Linked DNA regions of Homo sapiens: region 2 is linked to region 1. The links come from fine-mapping of genetic effects on plasma protein levels. Region 1 holds a variant in brackets. A gene starts in the other region. All regions are shown on their forward strands.

The links. PIP is the chance, under the fine-mapping model, that this variant and not a neighbour inherited with it causes the effect. The UK Biobank Pharma Proteomics Project read protein levels with antibody pairs (Olink). The fine-mapping took linkage between variants from a reference panel, not from the people measured, so its PIPs are less certain.
Region 2: it holds the start of FABP9, and the variant in region 1 is fine-mapped to the plasma level of the FABP9 protein (UK Biobank, PIP above 0.99).

The regions. Positions count from the first base shown.
Region 1 is chr17:3,522,971-3,525,895 of GRCh38, forward strand. It overlaps TRPV3 (transient receptor potential cation channel subfamily V member 3), which reads right to left. Exons shown (of 18, transcript NM_145068.4): 13 at 1,228-1,393. Among named protein-coding and RNA genes, the nearest start is that of TRPV3, 33 kb to the right of the region's middle. RefSeq lists an enhancer at 1,245-1,744. The variant C/T (reference allele first, on the strand shown) is at 1,317.
Region 2 is chr8:81,460,235-81,463,159 of GRCh38, forward strand. It overlaps FABP9 (fatty acid binding protein 9), which reads right to left and starts at 1,345. Exons shown (of 4, transcript NM_001080526.2): 1 at 1,217-1,345. The coding sequence starts at 1,289. LOC101927118 (a long non-coding RNA gene) reads left to right here and starts at 1,224. Exons shown (of 9, transcript XR_001745980.2): 1 at 1,224-1,740.

The DNA.
Region 1 (2,925 bases):
TCTGCAGTTTCAGGCATTCATGGGGGGTCTTAGAACATCTCCCCCAAGAATAAGGGGGGACTACTGTATTTACATCATGAAAATTGGTAAATGCCACAAATCAGAGATTGATTGACTCATTGTTTTGTTGATATCTAGATCTAAATGATTTAAGACAGTGATGGAGAAACTATTAATCCAGTTTAAATTTTAAAATGTGTTCTGTCTGCAGCCTTTACATTATGTATAGCACAAAAATATCAACAGAATATTATTCTGGTATTTGCAAACTAGTATCCAATTCAGCAAAGAAGTTGCTCACATCATTGATAAACAAGTAAAGTTCAACATAAATCTTAATTGTTTCACTTCAATCACTGCTTATAAAGAAAACTCTCAACCAACATTCATGTCTGATAGCACTCTTTTGTCAATTGCAACCAAAAGTTGACAACAAAAACTAGAATTCAATAAAAAGCAACAAATAGGCCTGGCGCGGTGGTTCATGCCTGTAATCCCAGCACTTTGGGAGGCCGAGGCAGGTGGATCACCTGAGGTCAGGAGTTCAAGACAATCCTGGCCAACATGCTGAAACCCTGTCTCTACTAAAAATACAAAAATTAGCCAACATGGTGGTGCGTGCCTGTGATCCCAGCTACTCTGGAGGCTGAGGCAGGAGAACTGCTTGAACCCAGGAGGCAGAGGTTGCAGGGAGCCGAGATCGCACCACTTTACTCTGGCCTGGGCAGCAGAGCAAGACTTGGTCTCCAAAAAAAAAAAAAAAAAGCAACAAATTATTCTGAGACTCAACTGGCTATGTGGAATTTACAATAAACTGCATGGTATATTTTCATTATTTGCAAATTGTGTGATACACATCGTTTATATAGTAAAATGTATGATAAGTCTTTTGTGTATATATATGGAATATACATATTCCACCTACACACACACACATACACACACACACACACAGAACAGTCGTTAAATGTTTACCAGCACGCCACTGCCCAGGGGTGAGAACATTCCTCCACAAACTGTACCCCTCCCCAGCACCCCACAAGCCTGGGGGATTTAAGGTCTTGACACTTAAAGCCTGGCCGAAAGCAAAGGGAGTGCATGGCATTTGGGAGAAAGAGCAGTGACCTGCCCCTTGGTAAACCCCTCTTCCTCTCCAGATCTCAGTTTCCCCATCTGAAAAATGGCCATCCTCCGAGGGCCCTCCCGCCGGCGCAGCTCTCAACGCACCTTCTGGATCATGACGCTGTACATGCCCATGGACTGGAAACCCCGCGTATAGTAGAGCATGTTCGCCCAGCCCAGGGCCATGGCCAGCA[C/T]GAGGCAGGCGAGGTACTCTTTGTAGGCAAACAAGTACAAGAAGACAGACAGTATCACAAGCACAGCTTGGATAAAACTGTTCAGGAGACACAGGAGACACGGGCCTTACTTACTTCTCAGCATCAGGGCAAAGATATGCAAATCCCCCAAACCTCCCTTAAACCCCCTGAACAGTCACCCCGGTGACGGATGCTGAAGAGACCAGAATCACGCTGCCTCAGATCCATTTGGCTACCATAGAATTCAGCCTGTAGAGACATCACCAGATGCCACTCACAGCCTGTGGTAAGCTGATTGCAGCTGGTGGGGACTTTAAAAAAAGAAAAAACACACATCCACAGGGCCGCAGAAGATTCTAGGGTACTGCCCGGGAGGCCATATATTTTTTAAATTACCCACACGGGCCTGGTGTAGTGGCTTTCGCCTGTAATCCCAACACTTTGGGGGGCTGAGATAGGAGAAACGCTTCAGGCCAGGAGTTCAGGACCAGCCTGAGTGACATAGTGAGACCTTGTCTCTACAAAAAAAAAAAAAAAAAGAAAAGAAAAATAATCTAAATCACCCACATAATTTCTGACTCCTGCATCGATTTGAGAACTACTGGAGTAGACCAAAGATGTGGTAAATGATTGTATTTTTAACCAAAATGACAAAAACTGCCAATATCTATACTTAAAAGCCAATCATAGCAAAAGTCCCCCAAACCCTACTTTTTAAATCGTGGTGTTTTTTGGGGGGGTCAGGGGGGCAGAGACAGGGTCTTGCTCTGTCACCTAGGCTGGAGTACAGTGGCATGAACTCTGCTCACTGCAACCTCCGCCTCCCAGGCTCAAGTGATTCTCCTGCCTCAGCCTCCCTAGTAGCTGGGATTACAGGCACCCGCCACCACACCAGGCTCATTTTTGTATTTTTAGTAGAGATGGGGTTTCACCATGTTGGCCAGGCTGGTCTCGAACTTCTGACCTCAGGTGATCCACCCACCTCGGCCTCCCAAAGTGCTGGGATTACAGGCGTGAGCCAACGCGCCCAGCATTAAATCTTTTTAAAGTATGATGTATGCTAAGTGAAATAAGATAGGTGACTCCACTATATGACTGTACCTAAAATAGTCCAATTCACAGAGAAAGATGGAAGAATGGTGGTTACAGGGGGCCGGGAAAGGAGAGGAATAGGGGCTGTTGTTTAAGGGGTATGGAGTTTGAGTTTTACAGGACGAAAACAGTTCTAAAGACTGATTGCCCAACAACATGAATGTACTTCACAGTATTGATTTCTACGCTTAAAAAATGGGTGCAATGCTAACTTTTATGCTATGTGTATTTTACCACAATTAATTTTTTTTTTTTTTTTGAGATGTAGTCTCACTCTGTCGCCCAGGCTGGAGTACAGTGGCATGATCTCGGCTCACTGCAGCCTCCGCCTCCCTGGTTCAAGCAATTCTCCTGCCTCAGCCTCCAGAGTAGCTGGGATTACAGGTGCATGCCACCACACACAAGGCTAATTTTTGTATTTTTTGTAGAGAGAGGGGATTTCACCAGACTGGTCTCAAACTCCTGACCTCAGATGATAGGCCCACCTTGGCCCACCAAAGTGCTGGGATTACAAGCA
Region 2 (2,925 bases), not on the chromosome of region 1:
GGTGATCCACCTGCCTTGGCCTCCCAAAGTGCTGGGATTGGAGGCCTGAGCCACTGTACCCAGCCAGCGGATGTTTTAAAAGGTTAAATGAAAGGGGTTAGCATGGTACTGGCACATAGAAACTGCTCAGCTGTTATTCTTGCTTGTATTATGCCTAAACCCAGCTCCCAGTCAACACAAGTGCTACTCTGGCCATAAGGCCCAAGTTTTTTATATACCCCCCCAATTTTTATTCAAAACAAGTGAGTCTATAAATCTATGAAGAGACAGAAAAACTTGTTTCTTATGACCCTCTGAGAAAGTGAATATTGACTACATCAGAGGAACAAATATTACATTTATAAGCACATTGACTTATTATGGGGATAAGGCATTGTTATTTCATTGTCTAGAATGAGTAAACATAATTAATAATTGTAAGCATCCATTAAGCATGTTATGTAAGTTAAAAAAAAGTAAAGATAAGAAAGTCCTTGGCTTTGTATACAGTTTACTACAAGGGAGGTTTCTCTTAATTAAATATGAAAAATATGAAATAATTGCTGTTCTTCCATTAGTAAAGAACAGTTTAGCTATTATACACCCAAGTCATTATAATTAATGTGTAACTAAATGACTTGAGTTAGAGATTAAAGGATTGGTAGGGTTTATAATTCTGAGGAATATCCAGTGGTGAGACATTCAATGAGTAAAAATGTTGTGTTTCTTCAGATTTGTAATTCTTCAAAACCATGTTTATAAAATATCTCTCACATTTATGAGAACTCTAAAAATTAACCAACTAGAAATTTTGTTAGTTGATACTGCTGTTTTAAAGCTATAACTTAAACCTTGAAACAAATTTAATTGATCAATTTAATTGTAGGTAGTGATTACTGTCTATAAATTTGAAGCTGGGAAAAATGTTATTAAATGAAATGACCAAGCTAAAATGAAATTCTATCTAGAAGTTAGGTGAAGTATTTTCAAAAAGGATAAATGGGCTTAAATATATGGATCATGACTGGACAGAGGTGTCTGTGGGCCTAGTCTTCCAAAAAGAGACAATTATTACTAGTAATTTAAAAAAGCAAAAGTAGAAGCATACATTGTGTTAGTCTATATACCCTAGGATCACAAAAGGAAGATAATTGTAGGAAAATTCATGGTAAAGTACAAACCCAATCACATCACAAAATGCTTTGCCAATTTCCAAATTTGTAATGGTATTTCTCACCCAGTTCTTTCATGTAATCCTCAAAGTTTTCACTGGAGACCAGCTTCCAGGTTCCCAAGAAGGGCTCAACCATCATGGAACACTTGCTGAGAAGAGCCACTCGTAATTGAAAACCAAAGAAATATAGGCATTACGGTGCTGCCAGTAGTTTAATTTAAAGAGCGTCTTCATCACGTGACTCTTCTGAAATGGCCAATGGGCAACAGCAGCAAGACTAAAGATTCTAGGCACCAGCATTTGACTCATTTTATTTACCTCCAAATTAAGAGACAGAAAATTAGCATGTAAAATTAAATTCTGGTCAATGATTTTAGCTTCTAGCAAAAAGATTTACACCCAAGTCACCTGACAAATATTACTTGTGGAACGGAGACAATCTTCAATAGACATCAGCTTTTTGAACAATGAATACTGAGTCAACCCTGGAGGAATATCCTGACAAATTGATAAACACCTGGCTGAGATGTTTTCCTACCTAAGACAAGAAATCCTTGCTTGGTCCACCTCAGCTGTTTTTTGTTTGGGTAAGTCACAGTGCTCAAACATCCTCTTCATTAAAATAATATCTTCCCTTCCCTTCCTTACAGGGTTGATGGGTTGATATTAGTTAATGTAACTAAAATGCCTATAATTGCTTGGAGGGAAATGGAGGGTATTATTAATATATTATCATTGTTGTTAATCGAAGGTAATTGAGGACAGGAAAGAAAGGTGACAATTATCATTGGATAATAGTATATGATTTAAGCTCTGAAAAGGAAGCAGAGCGAATGCCTACAAAATTCGTCTTTCAGGCTTACAAAGTAAACTCTACATTAAAAGATATTTTAAATTATAAGAAAAAATTTTGGCAAGTTTCATATAGAAAAAGATGTTTGGAATCTGCATTCTAAAAGAAAGACAAAGGCAGCAAATGGTTTCAATCTCTGTGCCATTACTTCTGAAACCATCTTCTGCAACCCCAATAATGGAAGTGGACTTTGCAGGTACTGAGTTTAGTAAGAAGGAGTAGATTCAGTAGCTGTTGATTTACATTACGGTTTTGAACTCCAGTTAACTTTAGAAGATGTTGGAAAGTTAGTGTCAGGGACCAGAAGAAGAATATTTATATTTTTACCTGCTTTGTATGAAGTATTTATTTAATTCAGAAAATATTGTTTGTGAACAAAATAAACAGGAGGTTGATATTTTGGTACTGTAAAACAATAACTTAAGTGGAATAAAGGATGGCTTTTGATGAAAACATATAAAGAAGAAACATATAATGTGATATCTTTATGGGTGGGACAATTATTAAATTATCTACAGTGCAAAACAGGGTAAGTGAAAATCCTGGAGTTAATTTCAGGAAACTAAGACCCAAGCTCAAAATAAGTGCCTCAGCAGTTGAAAGTGCATTCAGAGGTGATGTTCAAATATAGAGCAAGTTGTTAAACGTTTGCTTAACTGGTTCGAGATGTGTATGCACTCTCTGCTTTAAAGAAAGCAAGCATACATTGCTATGCCTGTTGGCCAGCTGGGTAGTGTAGCAAAGGTCTCCCATCAGCATAATCTTCCTTGTTGTTTTGATTCTCCTGTCATAGAATGATATTCCTGTGGTCCGTTTAGAACTCAGTTGGCCCATGAGACAAAAGCTAACATCAGATTTCTGGTTTCAATTATCCTCAGCAAACTAACGCAGGAAGAGAAAAACACCTCATGTTCTCACT